7 linked regions of the Homo sapiens genome follow. The protein of the gene in region 2 interacts with the protein of the main gene of each other region in a biochemical or structural test. Each region holds a gene or a part of one and is shown on either strand. Other genes may lie near its edges. The genes, in order: MAP2K2, SIPA1L1, DGKK, DGKZ, SLC15A5, RASSF6 and SLCO1C1.

Region 1 (3,500 bases), on a different chromosome or scaffold from region 2:
GGCTTTCATTCACATGGGTGGGAGGAGCCGGGGGAGAAATCCTGGGACTCAGGGGTGCCCGGGTTGCCGCTCTCTGGCCACTTCTGCCCAGCTAGGCTTGGAGAGAAAGGCCGAAGGCAGTTCTAGAAAACCCAACACGCTTTGAGACCTCTAAAGCATACACGTGACTCCATCCACCAGCTCCAGGCTGAAGACGCAGACACACAGGGTGAGAGGGCAGGTATGGCCAGGGCTCAGACAGCCCAGGAGGAGGTGCCAGGACGGGAGCTCCAGTGAGCCAGGGCCAGGTGGAAGCTGCTTCTATTCTCAGTTTTTATCAATCTACCTTAAAAGAATTACTTAAAATGAGGCCGGACATGGGCTGGGAGCGGTGACTCACGCCTGTAATGCCAGGACTTTGGGAGGCTGAGGCAGGCGGATCACTTGAGGTCAGGAGTTTGAGACCAGCCTGGCCAATATGGTAAAACCCCATCTCCACTAAAAATAAAAAAAATTAGCTGGGCGTGGTGGTGGATGCCTGTAATCTCAGCTACTCGGGAGGCTGAGGCAGGAAGATCACTTGAACCTGGGAGGCAGAGGTTGCTGTGAGTCGAGATCGTGCCACTTCTCTCTCGCCTGGGCGAGAGAGCAAGACTCCTCAATTAAAAAAAAAAAAAAAAAAAGCCGCACGTGGTGGCGCACACCTATAATCCTACCACTTTGGGAGGCCAAAGCAAAAAGAATGCTTGAGCTGAGGAGTTTGAGACCATCCCGAGCCACACAGTGAGACCCCATACCAAAATCAGCCGGGCGTGGTGGTGCACGCCTGTAGTCCCAGCTACTCAGAAGGCTGAGGTGGGAGGATCCCTTGAACCTGGGAGGTCAAGGTTGCAGTGAGCCGAGATCACACCACTGCACTCCAGCCTGGGTGACAGAGCAAGACCCTGTCTCAAAAAAACAAAAACCAGAAAGAGACCAACGACTCGAAAGAGGCAGGGTGGCGAAAACCAAACAGACGCACCAAACGCAACCCTAAAACCCCTGCTCCCCAGCACAGCTCCTTCCGTCTTCGTTTCTCCTGGGGCCGCAATCAATGTTTGTTTAGTGAGAAAATTCAAAGAGCCTCTCCCCGGAGATGAGGGCGGGCGGAGCGCTGTGCTGCAGCCTCAGGAGCTGGTGGAAGACGCCTCACAGGAGCATCGCTCTCTCTGCAGCCGCCTTTCTCCACTGTGACATCGGGGCCAGGTCACTCTCTGGGGTGGGGCCGACCTGGGCACTGCAGGGCGCTGAGTAGCGTCCCTGGCCTCCATCCACTCCACGCCAGGAGCATCCCCCAGTTGTGACAACCACACACATCCCCAGACAGTGCCAGGTGTCTCCTGGGAGGGAGAACTGCCCCTGGTTGAGAAGGGCTGATCTCCAGCTATAAAGACCAAAGTCTGGCAGGGTAAGCAATTTGTCTGAGTCACAGAGACAGGATGTGGTGCAGGGGGTATTGCAGCTGTGTACTGCTGACCCCAAATCTCACTCTGTGCATGACCATACACGTCTACCGTGTGTGTGTGTGTGTGTGTGTGTGTGTGTGTGTGTGTGTGTGTGTGTGATGTTTAAAATGGTCTTGTAACTGTAATTTTGTTACGTAGGTAGTAGGTGAACACATTTTTCTTTCTTTTTTTTTTTTTCCTGAGGCGGAGTCTCGCTCTGTTGCCCAGGCGGGGGTGCAGTGGCACCATCTCGGCTCACTGCAAGCTCCGCCTCCCGGGTTCACGCCATTCTCCTGCCTCAGCCTCCTGAGTAGCTGGGACTACAGGTGCCCGCCACCACACTCGGCTAATTTTTTGTATTTTTAGTAGAGATGGGGTTTCACTACTGGTGTTAGCCAGGATGGTCTCGATCTCCTGACCTCGTGATCCGCCCGCCTCGGCCTCCCAAAGTGCTGGGATTACAGGCTTGAGCCACCGCACCCGGCAAACACATTTTTCTTATAAAAAATTCAAATGAGGATAAATAACCTGGACGCCGCATCACTTCCACCATTCCCCCCTCAAGTGTGACTTATATTGTTCCAGATCTTTCTTCATCTCTCTCTTTCTTTCTTTCAGGCAGGGGTCGCCCAGACTGCAGCATAGTGCTGTGATCTTGGCTCACTGCAGCCTCCACCTCCTTGGTTCAGGCAGTCCTCCCACCTCAGCTTCCCAAGTAGCTGGGAGTACAGGCGCGCCACCATGTCCTGCTAATTTTTTGTAGAGACGGGGGTTCCTCATGTTGCCCAGGCTGCTCTCGAAGTCCTGGCTGAAGAGGTCCTCCCACTTCAGCCTCCCAAAGTGCTGGGATCACAGGAGTGAGCACCTGGCCCCCGCATCTTGCTGTGTATTTGGAAACACAGACTCGGGACTCACTCTCTTGCCCAGGCTGTAGAGCAGTGGCTCAATCATAGCTCACTGCAGCCTCGACCTACTGGGCTCATGGGATTCTCCCAAAGCACTGGGATTAAAGCATGCTTGCCCAGCCAGAGTTTAAAACAACATCGAAATGGGCTCATGTCTGTAATCCCAGCACTTTGGGAGGCCGAGGCAGGAGGGTCACTTGTGGCCAGGAGTTCAAGACCAGTCTGGGCAATATGGAGAGACCCTATCTCTACACAAATAAGCAAATAAATTAGCTGTGCATGGTGGCTCACGCCTGTGGTCTCAACTACTCGGGAGGCTGACGTGGGAGGACAGCACCAGTACACTCCAGGCTGGACAACTGAGCAAGACCCTGACTTGAAAATACAATAAACAAATGAATGGGCCAATGCTATGTTTATTTTATTTTTCTTTTATTTTGAAATGGAGTCTTGCTGTCGCCAGGCTGGAGTGCAGTGGCATGATCTCGGCTCACTGCAACCTCCGCCTCCCGGGTGCATGTGATTCTCCTGCCTCAGCCTCCTGAGGAGCTGGGACTACAGGCGTGCGCCACCATGCCCAGCTAATTTTGTATTTTTAGTATAGATGGGGTTTCACCATGTTGGCCAGGATGGTCTTGAACTCTTGACCTCGTGATCCGCCTGCCTTGGCCTCCCAAAGTGCTAGGATTACAAACGTGAGCCACTGCACCCAGCCCATGCTATGTTTATTTTCTACAACCACCCCTCCACTACATGAATAGTGTTGTACTGTGGGGATACTCCCATTCAGTACACCATTGTGGATTTCACTTTGCCACTGCAAAGCAGCCAAATATCATTCTTTAATCACTCCCTTACTGATGGACATGTCCAGTTTCCATTACAGTAGAACAAGACGGGCATTCTTCAGCAGATAGGACGAGACCCCCAGAAAGGCCAAGGGGCACCTCTACGAGGTCCGTAAGCCACTGGCTCTCCTTTCCCCATCCCATGAGGCCCCACTGTCCACTGGGTTCTTGCCCCGAGTTATCCAGTAATAGGTTCAGACCCCAGGGAAGCAGCCAGCCCCACTGTTCCTAAGTTCCAGTCACCAACAAGTGCTTGCCATTTTATATAAATACATCACTGGGCA
Region 2 (2,617 bases):
TCCCAGAACGCCTCGGACAAGCTGAAGAAGTTCACAGAATGGGTCTTCAACACCATAGACATGAGCTAGGGAAGGCTGAGGAGGACAGGAGAAGGGCCCAGACACTCCCTCCAGTGAGTGTCCTGCAGCCCTTATTCCCTCCATAGAAAGCATCCTCAGAGCACCTTCCCTGGCTTCCTACTCTGCCCCCTTTCGGGGAGTGCACAACACAATAGTTGCAGATCAACAATCATCACCTGCCTTTTGTAGAAAAGAAAAACAAAAAAAGTAAATAAAAATTTTAAACAGTAAAATAAAAGTTTAACTGCTAAAATGTGAATGTCTTTATTTTTTTGCACAATATCTTTATCTGTTATGTATTTAAGAAGAAACTGGGCCTTGGACCAGGGCGCCCCCTGGCCCATCCGCCTCTATTCCCATCAGCTTTCTTATCAACTTCAGGTAACCCAAGCTTTCCCTTGTTATTCTAACAAATATCATTATTCCTAGAAAAAGAATGTTTTTATAACTTGTTTGGGGAGTAGAGAGGGATATTTCCTTACCTTCTTCCCTAAAATGCCTGGAGAGGGAGTTGCTTTGAGAAAATGCCTACCTCCCTTGAATGACTCGTGCATGAGCTAGTGCTGTCTGTACCTGTCCTCCAGAGATCAGCAGGACCGGAGTTAAATATTTAACAGCAAGTCTGTAAACCAGAGCAGCTCTGACAGTGCCTGCAGGCCACACCCCTTCTCAGTCCTGCATTGTGAGGTCATTTCCTGCTTCTCCCTTTCCCCAGGAAGATGGTCCCACTTGTGCTGCAAGACTCTTTTTTGTTTGGCTTAATTGAGCCCCACTAAATTGGAATCAATCTCTCTTACAGCTTCCTGGCTCCAAACATTAATTGATTTCAGAATTCCCCCAAACTAAAACCTTATCTGTCTGCATTTTGAATGCATTTTGGTCAAAAGTATACGTTTTAAAGATTTTTAAAGATAAAAATGTGGCACAACTGGTTTTTTTAGCTTGCTGAAAATGACCATATCTCTAAATTAATCTTTCTCTCCAGAGCAAGACTTCACCAGTATTTGTAACTAGGAGAAGCTAACAGTGAATGTTTAATTGTGAATTTTAATCATTGCTTGTTAGGAATAATGACTGTGATACTAGAATGGGCTTTTGAAACCTGCATGTCCCAGTGTGAAATTTCAGCACGGCATTTTCTGCATCCTTTCATGGCCATCCAAAGGATTCCGCTGCAGAAATTATTGATGTGCTATTTTTGCTGTCTTGTGATGCAGGCTGCTTTGGGCCCCTGGGTCACTCTTCCAAGGCTGCTGTAGAGCACAGAGACATGGGGCTGGCCAGTGTTGACTGACCTGAGGAGACCCCTTTGTTTGTTGCCTTCATAACTGTCACTAAACCGACCCCTCTGCCCTTTCAGTGGCAACTCTGGTCTAAGGGAACATTCAGCACTCTAGCGGCATCTGATTGGAAGTTCCCTCACCCAAGTAATCTCAATTCCTTCCTCTCTCCATCCCTGAAAGAAACAGGATGGATTTTCCTCTCTTCTCCCTGCTACATTCACTACCAGATTTTTATGCTACAGTTTCATTCTTGATTGTGATTTCTCCATGGAATTTTTTTTTTCTGGTGACATTTCTATCATGGAAATAGGAAGATTTCGGAGTGCTTTGTGAAGATTTCAATTGTCTGTCTCTTTCTCTCTTTGACTTGTATGAAGGAGATTGTACATTGCCTGATATCTCTTTGTAAATGAGAAATATTGCTAACATCCAAGCATTCTGAAGTCTTGCTTATCCTTCTGAGTTTAGTTCTCATTTTGTTTTACATTTTGTTTGGGGACTTGGGGCAAGCTATTTATTAGAGTTTTGCAACAGAGTTCTTGTTTGAAGCCTCTAAAGACTACCTGTAAAATTCAAAGAATAAAATTCATTTTAAACGCTCTTTTAAAACACTTTGGTATTATTGCTTGAGGTTTGCTTATTTGAAAGACCACCCAATAACTCATTGACCCTCCTTGCATCCGAATTTTTTCATCAAGCTTTGTTAACACTAATGATGATTCTTGAAAATTTCTGTCCTTCTCAGAATGTTAATAAACTTTTTTACTCTGTCCACATGTCGATAGAGAATTACTATTTTGCCTTCTCTGCTTATGATTTAATATTTGCAGAGCACTTCATAATTAGCTTCCCCTTCATTATCCACGCATGGATTTTTCATAACATTGTTATTCTCTGAGACCAGCACATTTTTGGGCTGCATCTCCCAGCTCTCAATGTCAGATGTTGTGTGCCCAGGGAATACAAATGCCTGTTAATATTAGGCTGTGCAAAATATAATTAGAAAAGTTAATCTACTGAAAAAAAAATCAGTGCATTCCAAAGTCAAACCGAACCAATTTTTTTTTAATCTACCACGTCACTGTTCCTCTCCAGCGGCGCAGCTAATTGAGTGCTGACAGTAGAGTTTCTTCCTTTTATTTGGTTCAACAGTTCTACAGATTCCAGAGTTCTTGGACTAGCATAAGAATGGATGCCACAAAATATTCCAATTAACAAGCTAAAAAGGTCTGTTTAGACCATGATTCCTACATGGTTCGGAGGGCTTATACGTT
Region 3 (3,500 bases), on a different chromosome or scaffold from region 2:
CAATATTGGTCCAGACTTGGAAGAAACAGGCTATATTCAGACATCAATGCTCATAAAAAGCTATGAGCGTAGCTGGCTGGTACACACCAGCTACCCTAGTTGTGCTACTCCAGGAGATTTCAGCTGCTTGGAATCAATTTCATTTGAAACACGTGACTCTTAGAGTGCAATTTTTTTTGAAGCAGCAACTTTTCTGGCAAAGTGAAGTACTTTTCCAAACACCAGATCCATATACTAAATGCCTAATTCAATGCCATGGAACAGATCTAAGCTTGTAGGGAGATTTTAGAGGAGGAGCCAGTGGAGAAAAATAGGAGACAGGAAAGGATATCAGGTGACTTGAGGTGGAGGTGGGGAGGACAGCGTCTTGTTGACTGTGGAATCTCTGATAGAAATAGGTGGGGCACTTACGATCACTAGAAAGGCTGGATATAGTTTACTTGGAGCTTGTAAAGTAGAGCCACAGAAATGAGCCATCATCACATGGAATGAGTTTTGAAATGTCAGAAGGCTAGCACAAAATTATTGAGACACTGTTTAAACCATTCATTCTCTGGGCACTTTGGTGTTCTCATCTACAAAAATAGGAGTTTAGGTATATGAAAATGTACAATACCTAGAACAAACCAATTCTGAAAAAAAGAATCAAGTGGGGGACTTTCATCTCCCAATTTCAAAAACTACTGTAAAGCTATAGTTATCAAGATAGTGTGGTACTTGCATAGGATAGACACATAAATAAATAGAACAGAAGTGAGAGTCCAGAAATAAACCCTTGCATTTGTGGTCAATTGATTTTTGACAAAGGTGCCAACACGATTCACTGGGGAAAGGATAGCTGTTTTGAAAAATGGCTCTAGATCCGGGCGCGGTGGCTCATGCCTATAATCCTATCGCTTTGGGAAGCTGAGGCGGGCGGATTGCCTGACCTCAGGAATTCGAGACCAGCCTGGGCAAAATGGTGAAACTCCGTCTCTACTAAATTACAAAAAATTAGTCAAGCATGGTATCATGCACCAGTAGTCCCAGCTACTTGGGAGGCTGAGGCAGGAGAATTACTTGAACCCAGGAGGCAGAGGTTGCAGTGAGCCGAGATCATGCCACTGCACTCCAGCCTAGGCGACAGAACAAGACTCCGTCTCCAAGAAAATAAAAAAAATAAACAAATAAATAAATTAAAATGGTGGTGAGATAATTAGATATCCACAGGCAAAAAGATAAACTTAGACTCTTACCTTAGACCCTCACACTATACGTAAAAATTAACTCAAAGTAGATCATACACTTAAATGTATTAATAAGAGCTAAAACAATACAAACTTTAGAAGAAAACTTAGGAGCAAATTTTTAAGATCTCAGATTAGGCAAAGATTTCTTACAGATGGCACCAAAAGCATGGTCCATAAAGAAAAAAACTGATCAATTGGACCGCCTTAGAATTCAATACTTTTGTATTTCAAAGATACCACTAAGAAAATGAAAAGACCAGCAAGAGACTGGGAGAAAATATTTGCAAATCACATATCTGACAAAGTTCCTGTTTCTCAGCCCAGGCCTGCTTTGAGAAAGAGGTTCTAGTGGTGGTGGCAAGGGTGGGGTGTTGTGGGGTGGGGTGTCACACTTTTTACTTATAGCTTCAATGTACCACAAGAACTCTGAGACTGACTTAGGCCTTGTCTGAAGTATGAAAGTGCGAGAAGGTGCCATGCAGGCCAACACTGGATAGGGTAAAATTAACGGGTTCAGGGGAACCAGGTTAGGAACACCAAAAACAAATAGAGGGATGTTTGATACTTTGCAACTTTGTCAAGTGAAAACAGATCTGAAGCCACTACTGAAACCTGGTTAAACTTTCACAGACAGAACAAAGGTGGGCGATTTGCTAAATTGAGTCAACATAATCTGTTGTCAGTAACAGTAACACAGGTAGCTGTGTTTACACAGAAATCCACAGGTCTGGATTTGAAGGCAGCTCAAGTTTAGGATGCCAGTGCAGTCATCCAAAATTTGGCACACACTGTCCCGCTAGACTAGTCTTGGGGCCAATGCATTTTACTTCCAGTGGGTCCCTTTCTTTCTGTTGCTTGTCTGAGAGGTAGAGAATGTAGGAATACGTATGTGTATTGTGATAGTGTGTTTGCATGTAGGGAAGGGAGTTTCTTTTCCTTACTTGTATTGCCCTGGGTGTTCATCTCTTCTGGTGTTGAAGTCCAGAGAAATTTTAGCATCCAGTCCAATTCCGAAGTAGTTGTTCATGACACATTTTTCTTTGAAGCGTCTGAAATTATTCAAAGAAGAGGACAGACATTGGTGCAGGAAAGAAGTGCCGCTATCAATTGGGCATGAAGATGAATCTGCATGATGGAAAACCAGTGAGGGAAGGCCCCCTCCACACTGGGCACTAACTATAACATTTTTGAGAGGCACATGTAGATATCCTTTTGTGTGAACAACTAGCTTATTAGCTGTAAGAGGGAGTGCCTCGCCAGTTGGGAAGCTTCAGTGGGATTGGAACTCATAATAAAGAAGCAACATTGATGATTTTAGTCATCTTTGGAGGCCTTATGTATGAGTGGCCCATATTTTCTTCATATGTAGTATTAAGGGAAATACTGTTTACTCCTATAAAGAACTTTTGAATATCCTAGACACAAACGTGCCATGACAGTTAAGTCTGCACAACTGCTCTCAGTGATGTCCGACATCAAAGGGGAAAATGACCACACATTTGGAAGGAAAGACTGATAAAAGAGGGTAGATATGTACATAACAAAAAAGCCAAATTATTTGTCAAGTCTCCTGTGTCCATCTAGGGTGTCAGCATCAAAACCAGTGGTGTGCCATAGCCAGTTGGCACCAGCTCATGTAAACTGATTATGCATATCTCTTTCCAACTCCAGATTCAATGGCATTATATCACTAACTTAAATAGGCCATGGTGGAAGGGTTTACACCATAAATGAATCAGGGCTTTCTCCCCCAAGAGAGGAGGTTGTTAAACACTTTGCCAGTGCACTATTGATCAAAATTCATTAGGTAGATCCATGAGAGCTCAGACATAAATTTGAGCCAATGGTGAAGTGTGGGGGCAAGAATGCGGGTTGGAGACAGGAATAAAAATTGTTTTCTTAAATAAATTATTTAAGAAAACATAAATAATTTCTAGCTGTGTCCTTTTGAGAAATTAAATGGATACAGTTTAGCTGTTTAATCTTAGATTACTTTTTTATTCATTACCATACTGACCTTACATCTCTCACATGAGATTTGCCTCCCTCAACCACAGTCCAGAGATTGGAGTTTCTCTAACTAATGTCCAAACTGATCTTCTTAATGGAACTCAGAATGAGTGAGTGTGGCAGAACTTGGCTGCTGCCGATATTCTAAAGAGGGAGAACTGGTGAGACAGATGTCCTTAGATTTGCTGCCTAGTCCCCTAGTGACCATTTTAGTTTTTAGTATCTTCAACCATTTACTGTTAAGGGCAACAGTGAAAAAAA
Region 4 (3,500 bases), on a different chromosome or scaffold from region 2:
TTTACAGAGAGAGGCGGGGGCGGTTGTGAAAGGGGGCAAGCTGGTTCTTGCTCCCCAACCCACACGGACACCCCACTGACACAGCCTGCCACCACCCACCCACCTCTGGAAGGCATCCCCTTGGGGGAGACCTTCCTTCCATCCTGAGGGCCCTGAAAGGGTGAGGGACAGGCTGCCAAAACCATCCCTGGTAGACCCAGGGAGCTCTAGGGGGCTGGTCTCCCTCAAGGGGTCTTTTGTAGGACACAGGATCTCCCTCTGTCACCCAGGCTGGAGTGCAGTGGCACAATCATAGCTCACTGTAATTTCAAACCCCTAGGCTCAAGCAATCCTTCCACCTCAGCCTCCCGAGTAGCTAGGACTATAGGTGGGGGCCCCCATACCGGGCTCATTTTTTCTTTCTTTCTTTCTTTTGTAGAGACGAGGTCCTGCTATGTTGCCCAGGTTGGTCTCGAACTCCTGGCCTTAAGTGATCCTCCCACCTTGGCCTCCTGAGTTGCTGAGATTACAGGCCTGAGCCACTGTGCCCAGCCTCTGGAGTCTTTTTAAGAAATGATTTTGAAATCTTTCTAAACACATTAAATATCTTGGCGTTAGAAAAGTGTGCAGAATAAGGTGACACCTACTGCCTAGCTTGGTTGGAGCTTAGCATTAGGCCATATTTGCTTTAGATAGAGATGGAGGCCCCTGTGTCTTACTCCCTGGAGGAAACCACAATTCTGATTTTGGTGTGTGTGATGTTCTTGTGCCTGTTTTTAAAATTGTCCTACATAGGTATTCATGCCTAGCAACATACAGTGCTGTTTCGTATGATTTTACTCTGGTTTAAATGGTATACCAGGCATATTCTGCATTTAGGTTTTTCCCTCAATATTGTTTTGGAGATTTAACCATCCTAAACATGAATTCTCACGGATCCATTTTAACCTCCACGTCCGATTCCATTGTGTAACAGCAGCTTATTTGCCCAGGCTCTGTTGACGGACACTTGGGTGGTGTGCAGTTTTTCGCTATTGCAAGCGATCCCTCTGTGTTCTCTCCACCAGTGCTTGCTCACAGGGTCTGTGTATTTTCAGCTTAGACAGATGTTGCCAAATTGTGCTCCGAAGTAGTTGTCCTAATTTTTAGGCCTCTGTGTTTATTTTTTTATTTTATTTTATTTTTTTGAGACAGAGTCTCACTCTCGCCCAGGCTAGAGTGCAGTGGTGCGATCTCGGCTCACTGCCAGCTCTGCCTCCCGGGTTCAGGCCATTCTCCTGCCTCAGCCTCCCAAGTAGCTGGGACTACAGGCGCCCGCCACCACGCCCGGCTAATTTTTTGTATTTTTAGTAGAGACGGGGTTTCGCCATGTTAGCCAGGATGGTCTCGATCTCCCGACCTCGTGATCCGCCCGCCTCAGCCTCCCAAAGTGCTGGGATTACAGGCATGAGCCACCGCGCCCGGCTATTTTCTTTCTTAAAACTTTCAGTAAACTGGGGAATTGTTTCCCAGGAACAAACACTTTCTCCTTCAAGCCTGCAACACTCCCTTGAGAGAGACGAGGGTGGGCATTAGCCCTATTTATCAGATCAGGAAACTGAGGCTGAGGCAGGTTAAAAGGCTTAGCTTGAGGTCATGTAGCTGGTCAGAGGCAGATCCTCTGGGCCTTTGAAGCTAAACCTACTGTGAAGGCCTTTGTCCCCTGTGTGAGTAGTGTGGAAGCCTGGAGAGTGGGGTGGGGCCCTGGGGGCTGATGGGGGAGGGAGCAACATGGTCAGAAAGTTGAGGGGGGAGGTGTTAAATTTTTTTTTTTTCTTTTTTTGAGATGGAGTTTTGCTCTTGTTGCCCAGGTTGGAGCGCAATGGCGCGGTCTCGGCTCACCGCAACCCCTGCCTCTGAGGTTCAAGCGATTCACCTGCCTCAGCCTCCCAAGTAGCTGGGATTACAGGCATGGGCCACCACACCCGGCTAATTTTGTATTTTTAGTAGAGATGGAGTTTCTCCATGTTGGTCAAGCTGGTCTCGAGCTCCTGACCTCAGGTGATCTGCCCGCCTCAGCCTCCCAAAGTGCTGGGATTACAGGCATGAGCCACCCGCCCGGCCAGGGTGTTAATATTGAATGAGGGGTGAGGGGGAAATGCTTCTCCCAGCAGATGGGGAATGGGAGCCCTCTGCAGACACAGGAGAAGACAAGGATGGGACGGTCACCAGAGAAGAGTGGGGGCCCGCGAGGGGTTTATAACAAAGGGGCCCCTTTGGGAGGCTAAGGGAGATATATTGGCATTCCCATCAGGGATCGGTTTCAGTGTTGCCTCTGAGACACCAGAGCTCAGCCCAGACCAGACTTGTCCACCCAGTGCAGCAGGAAGTTCTCGGGAGCTGGCCCACTCCTGGGGCTCTGTGCCCACCTGAAGCCTGTGCTGTCAGCGGGATCCATGAGGCTGAGTCCAGACCATGCGCTGTTCCCTCCACTCACTCTTCAAACCACACCCAGCACTTCTACACTCTGGGGATGCCATTAGAAGCAATGTGAGGCCCTGGGGCTCACAGCCTGTCCGGGGATGCAGATTTGCACATTAGTGCTGATTGCCCAGGGTCTGAGAGGAAAACCATGAGGGAGAATTCACTGAGTAGAGAGGGGAGTGGTATTCCAGGTAGGGAGACCACCGGATGCCACGTGGTGCCACGTGGAAAAGGGACCCGCGGTGTTTTGTTTGCCAGAAGCATCCAGGGTGGAGCCTGAGGGGTCGAGGGTATGTGCCATGGAACACACTACTGAGTTCAAACCCCAGCACTGCCACATGTTAGCTGGACGACTTCAGGCAAATGACTTAACCGCTTTGTCTCTCAGTTTCCTCATCTGCAATATGAGGATACGGGCCATGGGGATAAGAATACCAACTATTCTTAGGAGGATTCGTAGCTTAATATTTGTAAAAACACTTAGAGTAGTGTCTGGTGGAGTGAGTTATGTAAGTGTCAAATACAGCATTAAAAATATGAAAGAGCAGAGAGGAGGCTGGGAGGCCTGTTGCCTGCCAGCCCCAGGTCTTTGCATTTTGCTCAGCTGACAGTAGAGTCAGTAAAAGGTGATTGGGTGCTTTAGGATGAATTCTGATGGCAGCGGGAGTCTGGCTTGGAGGGAGGCACTAAAGGAATGGGTTGGTCATTTGTTGCGCAAACATCTCTTTGAGGCCTAGCAGGGGCTGAGTCAGGGACTCGGATGTGAAAGAAGAGACTGGGGGTATTTCACCAAGGAGCTCAGGCCAGCTTAGGATCCCCGCCTAGCCCCCAAGCCTCTGAGACAGCCCCTCCTCCCCTTTCCTTGCCCACCACCCTCCCCTTGTGACTTCATGTCACCAAACCGACTATCTAGTTTTCATGAGAAAGCCATGGAGAACATGGAGCGGGCGATAGCATCCAGCCCAGAAAGGGGCCTCCAGGTGTCACTCTTGGGGTCCTCTAGAGAGGAGAGGAAGGTGGCCACCCAAACCAAGGCTGTTGCCATCCCCTTGTACCCA
Region 5 (2,701 bases), on a different chromosome or scaffold from region 2:
TCTTTTGGTGTTTGCTTTGGGTCAACTTTATAATTCTGTAGATCTTTCAGCTCTAAGGACAAGTGAAACCACAATGAGCACCTTTTTCTATTATGATGTAGAAATTAAGGAGATGAAGGCAAATTTGTGGGGAGGGGGAGAACAAAATAAAGCAGGCTCCTTTTCTATCAGTAAGAGGGACTAGAGCTTCTCACTTGTACTGAGGTGAAGTGTTTAAAGATTTCTTGCTCTTGTGAGTGTTCATTAAACCCAAATTGCAAACTTGGCATTTAACCTTTTGCAGCAAGGAAAGCTTCTAAGGAATATTAGGGGTCTGCCTCACTGTTTTGCCAGGAAACAATTGCTAAACAGAAAGGATTTGAAAAAGTTGCAGGAAACGAATTTATGCCTGTACCAGCAAGTCTTTTCATTTGTCCTCAAACAAAAAATAGTTTGAGTAACAGAAACACCTGGTGCTTTACAGCTCCTCTTTTGCAATTAAAAATGCGTAGCATACCTAATCAAGTTGAGTAAATCTTTTATTCTACAGACCTAAAATATTTTATGTATACACAAGGGAGGTGCATAATTGCAGAATAATTTGCAGTCAGCTGATAAACTCACCTGTCCTATCCAACATGAATTGTCCTGGAAAGCAATGGCTTTTAAACCTTAGGGAACATGAGAATGATTTGGGTGTGCTTATTAAAACCACCAATTGCTGGACCCCAATCTCAAAAAAAGATTTGAGTTAAGGCAGTCTGTATAGGGGCCAGAAAGATTCACCTGTAGCAAGTTGTCCTCAACCAAATGTTGACAAATACTGCTACTGAGAAACAGACTTTAATTTTATTTGATTTTTTAAAAAATGAGTTTCCACATATTTTTGCTTATGAAAGAAGAAACTCTTAGAAGATAATTTTCTGAATGCATCTGAATTGGCAGTGGAGACCGAAAGATGTTATTCATATAATTCCTTTAAGCATCTCTATTTGGTTTGGTCACTTACCCTCCTCTCAGCCCCCTCATTTTATCTTCCCTAATTTCCTTCTTTCTTTTAATTCCAATAATTCCATAACTTACATTTATTTTTCAACTTTTTTAGTATGCGGACATTCTCTTTGTTAAGGACATCTATTTTAGTAATACTGCTTTTAAATTCAGAGAAAATGTCCTTAATGAAGTCATATTTTGATAGCATAATATTAACAGCAAATATAGAAAATCATGTATATGTTTATTATTTACTCAGTTATATACAGTATATGGTCACAATGTAATAAGGTCACGTGTAATAAGGGATCACTAAGTGTATTGAAAGAGAGTATATTAAAATACTGTCATTTTGCTTCTAATGACTCATTAAAACTCCAAAAAAAAGGTCATACGCTTTCAATGGCTGAACCATTGTAGAAAGCTGTAAGGTATTATTGGTGTATAGAAAACTGTCATTTTTTTTGTCATAGAGTAATCACTGAGACTTTGAAATTATTTTATTAATTCTAATGCTATAACATGTTAATGCAAAAGCATGACAGTTTACTAGAAAATTCATAATTAGTCTTTGTAAATAAAGTATACAGATGATATTTGTAAAATCACCTCTGTATATATTGGCTTTTACACTAAAACACATAAAATGCTCAACTGAAGAAGAAAACAATGAATACTGTTCTCATAAGACAGGTAGACTCAAACACAGTTTCATAGGGCTGTCTCCCAAAGATCAATACTTGAAGAAAATTCCTGTATACTGCCATAAAATTTCAGAGATTTTTCGTGGAGGAGAAGTGTTTCTTCAAGATTACTTCCACGGATGTTCTGGGCATTAAAATGATTTAGATTACAATATCTAAAAAAGAAAGAAAGAAAGCTTTTCTTAGGACCAGATGTAGATGAATTGATAAATCATTTGCTTCCCTCCTGCGCTTGTCTACCTTTTATGATGGGCTCATAGATACTGGCACAACAGTGACGATTATTTAAGAGCACTGCTCACCAAAACAGCCTTTTTAAAAGGACAAAAGGAGTTTTTGTGACTTAGTAAAGTGTCTCATAAGGACCTTTAGGTGGCGCTTTTTAACAACCTGCTACGCTGTCTTCAGTGCTGACAGAGAGATGGTGAGAAGGCTGAAAGCCTATTGACTTGACAGATTTCATGGCGGTCAGGATGCATAAGAGGTTTACTGGGAATTTGTAAATTCAGTGCTGAGATTATGTGGAAAGCACCATTGTCAAAGAAGGAGTCTATGAATATATTTCTAGAATGTGCACTCTCCATCCCCAACCTCCAGAAAAACCTGCCTTTCCAGTGTCTTCTAAGTACCAGCCCCATGCAAGGGTGGGATAGAATCATCCCATTTCACAGATTAAGAAACTGAAGTTTCCAAGAGATTAAATAACTTGCTTAAGGTTCATAGAAATAGTAGTTGGCAGAGTTTGGATTTGGAACCAGAACTTGATTATTCTGAATCCTGGCGCTTTTCCTCCATGGCATACTGCCTCTAAAGACAAATTACTTTCTTAAACACTTTCGGGTAAGTTCCAGCAAAATAGGAACTTCAAATTGCTTTATTCACTGCTTTATTCCCAGTGATTGATACATAGTAGATGTTCAATAAATATTTGTCAAATGAACAAATGAATATCGGCTATAAGTTTAATTTTATCACATACACATAAGTTTCAAAAATAGATGGGGTCAGTCATCTATTTTTGATTT
Region 6 (3,500 bases), on a different chromosome or scaffold from region 2:
AGAGATTATGGGATGGAGACAGATTCGATTACCTGGAAGAATGTATAGATAGAGAAGAAAGGATGGCTGAGAATGGACACTCAAACAAGCCAGTATTTAGTGATCATACAAAGGAGGAATCAGCAAAGGAGACTAGTGTTGAGGCCTGTGAGATAGCAGGAAAATAGAGTGAGGTGATTGTTATTCATGGTTTGTCTCAAAAGCATCAAGAAGAAAGTGTTTTAAAAGGTAGGAAAATCAATCTTGTCAAATGTTGCTAAGAGGCCGAGAAATGAGGAGAGAAGTGAACTCTTTGGCAAGGTATAGGCTCTTGGAACATGGATGGAGAGGTGGAGGTAGGGCTAAATTAAAGGAATATATGATAAATAATCTGGACCCAGGAGGAAGAAGGAAGTGTTTGGACCCCAGGGTCATCACTGGGGGATTTCAGTCGGGGACATTAATAACCCTTTTGGTGGGTTATTAGAATGACAAAATCCAGGGGCAAAACTCAAGTTTGAGAAGCTGGAGGAACCTGTGTAACCTGTATAACCAAGTTGCCCAGACCAAATCCTGTGAATAAGTAACTGGGATTCACTGGGCTCATGGAGCATGTTGTGTCTGTGTGCCCAAGGCAGCATAAAATGCCCATGTGGCTTCTGACGTATAGAATTACTTTGCCTGGTGACTAAGCTTCTGTGTCTCTGGTATGAGTCCTCCAGGTGTCCTGCATGAGACCTGCCAATGATGTGCTATCAGAGGATGCCATTTCCAACTAGAGAAGCACAATTCTTTGAGCAAGAAGATAGCAATAGAAAAGAAAGTAAGGTATAAATCAATAATGACAATACAAGGTAGAAAGCAGAATGATGACAACAGTGTGGATTCAAAGGACATGGGGAGACTTTAAGATTTCCCACTGGGGACTAAAAGGGACCAGATATCTGGACCTGCAGTGAGGAGGGCCCTCTGCTGCCAGGGGAAATGGGTGAGAAAAGACTCAATGACATGAAATTTCATTAGATTACAAGGCCTGGTGTTGAAGAAATGTTTCAATTTGGAGCCTGGAAAGGTAGGTTTGAGTGGAATTGAAGAAAACTTGAGAGTCAGGTTAAGGGACTTGGGCTGTATTTATTAAGAAAGATACCAAGATGGTTTGTGACCAAATAGGTGATGGGATGATCGGAATGATAAAAGCCTAAAATGAGACTCCAGCCAAGCATTCACCCTGAAAACTGTAACAAAGTACCTAGTGAGTTTAACAACATGCTATAAAGAAAAATATGCATCAGAGATTTTATGAGAATAGAAGAATAGCTTTCCTGTTTTCTTTTTTTCCTGGTACTCTGAAGAGTTAGGACATATAATTTCCTAATTTTTATTCATCTTACCCAACCCAAATAACCAGATTTGAAAGGAAAAGGAGGAAATCCACCCCCTTATACACAACGTTTTTTTTTTTAAAAAAAAAAAAAAAAGAAAACTGAACTCTCTCATCCATCTTTTTTATTCTGGCTCTATCCCCTAAAATCTTATAGACTTGGAGCCATGATAACTGAATATTCAATTTTTGCAAAATGGAATGAACAGAAAATATTATACTTTACATCTCTGGTCACACCCTAATGCCATTTATATGAACATATAAAGGAGGAGATTATTCACATCTGACCACAGTTTCCAGAGCTTGAAGGAGACTTGAAAAATATTACATCATACCTAATCAACTCTTCAAGTCAGAGCTTGATTTTAGCTGCCTAGAATTGCAGTTGTCTTCTGCTGATTGGGGCAAGGTTCAGCCAGTTTGGGTGAGTTATTGCAATAGAAGGAATATGCTCCCTTATACAGAATTATATAAATCAATAGAGTCATATTTATTTTGCTAGAAATATATCTAAAACAGACTTACCAAATTGTTCAATCCATCCGTGTCTGGAGTTACTGTTTCTGTAGTTTTTCATTTACATAATACATTTTTCTGTATTTTTGCTCACACATGACATACTACTTAAAAACTTTCTAAAACCTTCTTATACTCTAGAGACACAACAAAACACTCAACTTAAATCAGAAACTAATTTTTTAATGCATTATAGGAACAAATCATTAATATTATTCTCATGTTTAGGATATCCTCAGACCATCTCAAAAAGGAGGAAAAGATGACTATGATGGCTCACCAGTACCCCTCTTGGATCTTCATTAATGAGAAGACATTCATAACCAGGTAACCACACACCTTATATTATACATTGTCCTACTCACCAGTCATTTGTGGAATATACCGTCAAAGTTTTCTAAGCATGATGTATGGTCAACAAGATCAATAATATGAATCATCAGTAGAGATACTAGATAAGAAGTTGGAAAAGTATGTTCCTAAAGACTCTCAAATTTACTCTCATGGAACAATCACTAATATTTTGTTTAACAGTGGTTTTACTTTATTAAAAGCAACATTTCTGTTTTAATAGTTGGGATAATATTGAAGAGCAGCATTAGGTGAAAGATCTAAGGCTTCTCATAAATGATAGTTCTAAAGAATTAACCCCAGGGCCAAAAACATTATGTCCTGTCCTAACCTCTCCATCCCTTGCTCCTCATGACACTTTATTTTTACTGGTTCCCTCTTGACATTAGATTATGCAATATATGGCCAACATCCACAGCTTTTCTTGTACGCAGCAAACAGTATCTCATATTGCTTTGGGAACAATAGAGTAAGGGCTTAAAAGCTATAAGAGTAGAGATGAAAACTGAAACTGGCCAAGCTACAGCAGAGGCTGGGGGCTGAGAGGAGATGAAATCATGAAAAAATAAGTGGTACTGAAACATGACCCAAATCTTATGGGGGGTGGAAAAAGGAAAAAAGCCAAATAAATGACAGAGAGAAGGAGAAGTGAATGATGCAGGGTTGGGCAGTAGGAAAGTGAAGGAAACAAATATGATCAAATATGGAAATAAAGCCACAGCTGAAAGATAAGGATGAACTATAAGCAGTGGGAAAAAGACCTGATGCAAAGGATAAAGGATCCACTGACTTATTCCTCAAACACTTACTGATTACTCACTGTGAGCAGGTGTATTTTTGGACCCTGAGCATTCAGTAATGAACCAAACAAAACCCTTACTCTCATGGAGTTACATCATAAAGTCGGGATGCAGTCAATACATAAGATAAATGCTGAGGAAATGGAGTAAAGAGTGCTAGAGATAGAGAGCGGAAAGGGTTCTGATTGCATATAACCTAGTTCCTTCCTCAGTGAGCGGGAAGCACTGGAGGAAAAGCCTGCAGAAAGGGAGAAAGCAAGCCATGCAGCTTTCGCAGGTATTCCAGGCAAGGGGAATGGCAACTCCACAGCCCTAAGGCAGATGCATATTTGTAAGGGTCAGGGAGAACAGTGTGGGGAAATGGAAGTAGAAAGACAGCAGGAGAAGAAGCCAAATGGGCTCAGAACATGTAGGGTTTGATAGGCCATTATGAGGCTTGATCTTTCCCACTAAATAAGATGAGAAGCTGT
Region 7 (3,277 bases), on a different chromosome or scaffold from region 2:
TGAAACCACTTACTTTAATCTAATTACTGTTTTGGAGATGAAAGGCCATCAATTACATGCTGAAATCTCCCAAACCTATCTCTCTAATCCAGTCTTTTCTCATAAGCTCCAGAATCATGCAGTAACTGCCATTTATTTATCTCCAGAAGCATGTCACTCAGGCACTTCAAACTCAACATGAGCTCAACTTCTTCCCCTATAGACCTGTCCCTTTATCAGTGGAAGCCCAGTCATTAAAGCAGACTTGTGAGTTATCATTGATCCTTCTTTCTCCTCTCTCTGGCTATCACTATATTTAATCTGTCCCGGAATCATACTGAGTCTATCTATTAGGTATATCTTAAACACTTTCTCTTCTTTCCATTCCCACTGCCACTCCTTCTACCCTAACTTAAAGCAACAGCCAATTCATGATTCCTTGGCTTCATTCATTAACCTTCTCAAATCTGTACATCATACAGAGGTTGCATCACTGAATTAAGTAGGTGACTTCCCAAGACATCTGTTCCAAAAGAAGAGTAGTTAACTGAACATTGGGTCTTTCTACTTTTGTGGCCTCACTTTGGGCAAGATTGTTGTCTTACATTTCAGACTCAAATTTTCTTGGATTTCTTTCAGTGACTAAAATGTTCTCTCCTCTTGTCTGAATGCCTTGTGTAGTTTCCTTTATCCCAAGCAATGATTTTCTCTTATTCACATTCTTAATACACACTCACTTTTAAAATCCAAGTTTGAACGTTTTCCTTCAGTTCATTTTGATAAACTAAACTGCATTAATTCTCATTGTTTTACATCTCATCAAACTTTAAATACTCCTGTAATAGCTTGTTGAATTGCCTTCTCTGCTAGACTGTAAGCTCACCACGGTAGGAAACATGTCCTCCTTATTCATGCCAGAAACCCTAGTAGGTTCTCAGAAAATGTTAGGAATTTAATCCCTCCTTAGGGAGAAAATGTGTCTCTCATGTGCAAATATTAACGAAAGTATCTTAAGCAGTTGTTCATAGCTCAGTGTATATTTTATATGTTCTAAATTGGTGGTTCATTAACATTGGTTATTTAGTCTGTGTAGACTTTGGGATTTTGTTTTTTAGTTAGTAGCCAATAGCTGAAACCTAGGAGATTTCATATAAACTTGCACACTTCTGAGTTCTCTTAAGAACCATGTTGTCTGGCAGTCCATGGTCATAGTTGGCTGGAGTTAAGCAGCAGCTGCCTCACTCCCCCAACCGCTGCCTACACTTGGAGTCCACCACAAGTCCATACAGCTTTCTCTCTGCCTACATCACTCGTTTCCATCAACTGTCTGGTTGTTTCCGGCATTTGAGTTTTAACCTTTTTTGTATATGTTTTCTTCTGTTATAAAATTGCTTTGTATGCTTATATTGAACAAAATAATCTCACTAAATTTTTAAAGTCATCTAAGAATATTTATGACACTTCTAAATTTCAGAGATTATCCATTTGTTCTTTGAAAACAAATGAAAATATTTGAAAATATTTTCTATGTAAAGGTTTACCTAAACTTTGCAAATACTCATGTAAATAATTGATTCAATCCAGACTCATCGATGGCTGCTAAAATTTTGGGTGAAAGATTTTTGGGAAACAGAATGGTGACATAATCTCGAAGTGTCAAATTATAGGTGACTTATTAACTGCAGAAGGATTTTTCAATGGAGAAAACTGGTAGACACCACCTTCACCAAGGGACCAAAATTAAAATTCCAATGAGGTATAAACTGAAATGATGTGCTTCCTGATATGATTTACTAAGCATCATGCAAATCACGTGTGTAGTATTGCCACCAACAATATTTTACCTGGACATACTCACAAGCAAACAAACACATCCAATAGTTGGGATATTTTACAAAACAACTGGCTTTGCCTCTTGAAAAAAATATAAATGTCACAAAAGAACAAAAAAATAAGAATGAGGAATTTTTGGAGATAAAGAAAGGTAACTAAATGCAATATGTGGTCTTTGACCTTGGATCAAAAGAAAAAATAAAACACTATAGAAGACACTATTGTTATAATGAAAGAAATTTGAATGAGGGATTATATTAGATAGAGTAGCATATCAATGTTGAATTTCTGAAGTGTGAGAATGGTATTGTGGTTATATAGGACAAGTCTATATATAGATTTGCTCTAGTAGAAGAACACAAGTTGAGGGCTTTGGGAGTGAGGTGTCAGCATGTTCACTACTTATTTTCAAATGATTCAGCAAAATATTTGTATGCTCAGAGAAACAGAGGAGAGAGATTTCTGGTTTTTGGACACAGTTGATAAATCCCAGTAAAAGTTATACAGTTATTCATTGTAATTTAAATTTTTTGGTAGATTTGAAATTTTCGCAACAAATGGGAGAGAAAGAGGGAAGTAAAGCCTATGGATTAAAAAAGATTTTAGAGATATATCACCTAATGCAATTGTGGACCTTGTTTGGTTCTTAATTCAAACCTACATGTGTAAGGAAACATCAGATAATTTAAAGAATTTAAGCAGTAATTGGGTATTTGCTAATATTAAGAAGTTATTTTTTAAGATGCAAGAATCACCAGATTAAAACAAGTCATTATGGTTTTGATTAGAAGAGCACACCAAACATGTTATAGAAGAAATACAGTAGTCTGAGACTTACTTCAAAATAAGCTAGTTGGGTAAGTAGTTAGGGACACAGATGTCCTAAGATGAGCTGTGTATTGATAATTGTTGAAATTGGGTAATTGATAAATGGGAGTTCATTGCTATCTTTGCTGTATACAAAGACAGTTCTTGCTATCTTTGTATATGTTTACATTTTTAAATAACAAATGATCCCCTCTATTTTGCTTGAAACCCCAAGAACAAGAAGAGCAGAAAATTTTGAATTAAATTTGGATTATTTGGTGCCTCAAAAACCAAACAAATATATGATTTACCACTTAAAAAATCCAGGTGATAACCAATTTTACATTACCTTTAATGATGTGAAGACAAGCCAAAAAAATTCAAATGTTTGCAATTTTCTGTACGTGGTTTAAGATTATTATAATAGAACATTTTCAAAAATTCACAAAAGCAGACAGAATGATATAATTAACCCTCATGTACCATCATAGCTTTGACAATTATTAATGTTTTGCCATTGCTGTTTCATCTCTCTCCCCATTCTGAACTCTATTTTTTTTTGAGACAGAGTCTCCCTCTGTCACCCAAGCTGGAGTGCAGTGGCACAATCTTGGCTCACTGCAACCTCTGCCTCCTGGGTTCAAGCAATTCTTGTGAC

Evidence for each region.
Region 1: the proteins of SIPA1L1 (region 2) and MAP2K2 interact in a test that uses a peptide from one of them, tested with the Homo sapiens proteins (one large-scale study listed by IntAct).
Region 3: the proteins of SIPA1L1 (region 2) and DGKK interact in a test that uses a peptide from one of them, tested with the Homo sapiens proteins (one large-scale study listed by IntAct).
Region 4: the proteins of SIPA1L1 (region 2) and DGKZ interact in a test that uses a peptide from one of them, tested with the Homo sapiens proteins (one large-scale study listed by IntAct).
Region 5: the proteins of SIPA1L1 (region 2) and SLC15A5 interact in a test that uses a peptide from one of them, tested with the Homo sapiens proteins (one large-scale study listed by IntAct).
Region 6: the proteins of SIPA1L1 (region 2) and RASSF6 interact in a test that uses a peptide from one of them, tested with the Homo sapiens proteins (one large-scale study listed by IntAct).
Region 7: the proteins of SIPA1L1 (region 2) and SLCO1C1 interact in a test that uses a peptide from one of them, tested with the Homo sapiens proteins (one large-scale study listed by IntAct).

The regions. Positions count from the first base shown.
Region 1 is NC_000019.10:4,103,623-4,107,122, forward strand, and holds part of MAP2K2 (dual specificity mitogen-activated protein kinase kinase 2), read right to left. Parts: intron 1-3,500. UniProt on the Homo sapiens protein: Catalyzes the concomitant phosphorylation of a threonine and a tyrosine residue in a Thr-Glu-Tyr sequence located in MAP kinases. Activates the ERK1 and ERK2 MAP kinases.
Region 2 is NC_000014.9:71,739,093-71,741,709, forward strand, and holds the end of SIPA1L1 (signal-induced proliferation-associated 1-like protein 1), read left to right. Parts: coding exon 1-69; 3' UTR 70-2,117; downstream 2,118-2,617.
Region 3 is NC_000023.11:50,380,326-50,383,825, forward strand, and holds part of DGKK (diacylglycerol kinase kappa), read right to left. Parts: intron 2,279-3,500; coding exon 2,171-2,278; intron 1-2,170. UniProt on the Homo sapiens protein: Diacylglycerol kinase that converts diacylglycerol/DAG into phosphatidic acid/phosphatidate/PA and regulates the respective levels of these two bioactive lipids.
Region 4 is NC_000011.10:46,353,963-46,357,462, forward strand, and holds part of DGKZ (diacylglycerol kinase zeta), read left to right. Parts: intron 1-3,500. UniProt on the Homo sapiens protein: Diacylglycerol kinase that converts diacylglycerol/DAG into phosphatidic acid/phosphatidate/PA and regulates the respective levels of these two bioactive lipids.
Region 5 is NC_000012.12:16,187,985-16,190,685, forward strand, and holds the end of SLC15A5 (solute carrier family 15 member 5), read right to left. Parts: intron 1,832-2,701; coding exon 1,684-1,831; 3' UTR 501-1,683; downstream 1-500. UniProt on the Homo sapiens protein: Proton oligopeptide cotransporter.
Region 6 is NC_000004.12:73,610,437-73,613,936, reverse strand, and holds part of RASSF6 (ras association domain-containing protein 6), read left to right. Parts: intron 1-693; exon of another isoform or gene 694-807; intron 808-2,107; coding exon of another isoform or gene 2,108-2,141; coding exon 2,142-2,206; intron 2,207-2,260; exon of another isoform or gene 2,261-3,500.
Region 7 is NC_000012.12:20,747,332-20,750,608, reverse strand, and holds part of SLCO1C1 (solute carrier organic anion transporter family member 1C1), read right to left. Parts: intron 1-3,277. UniProt on the Homo sapiens protein: Mediates the Na(+)-independent high affinity transport of organic anions such as the thyroid hormones L-thyroxine (T4), L-thyroxine sulfate (T4S), and 3,3',5'-triiodo-L-thyronine (reverse T3, rT3) at the plasma membrane.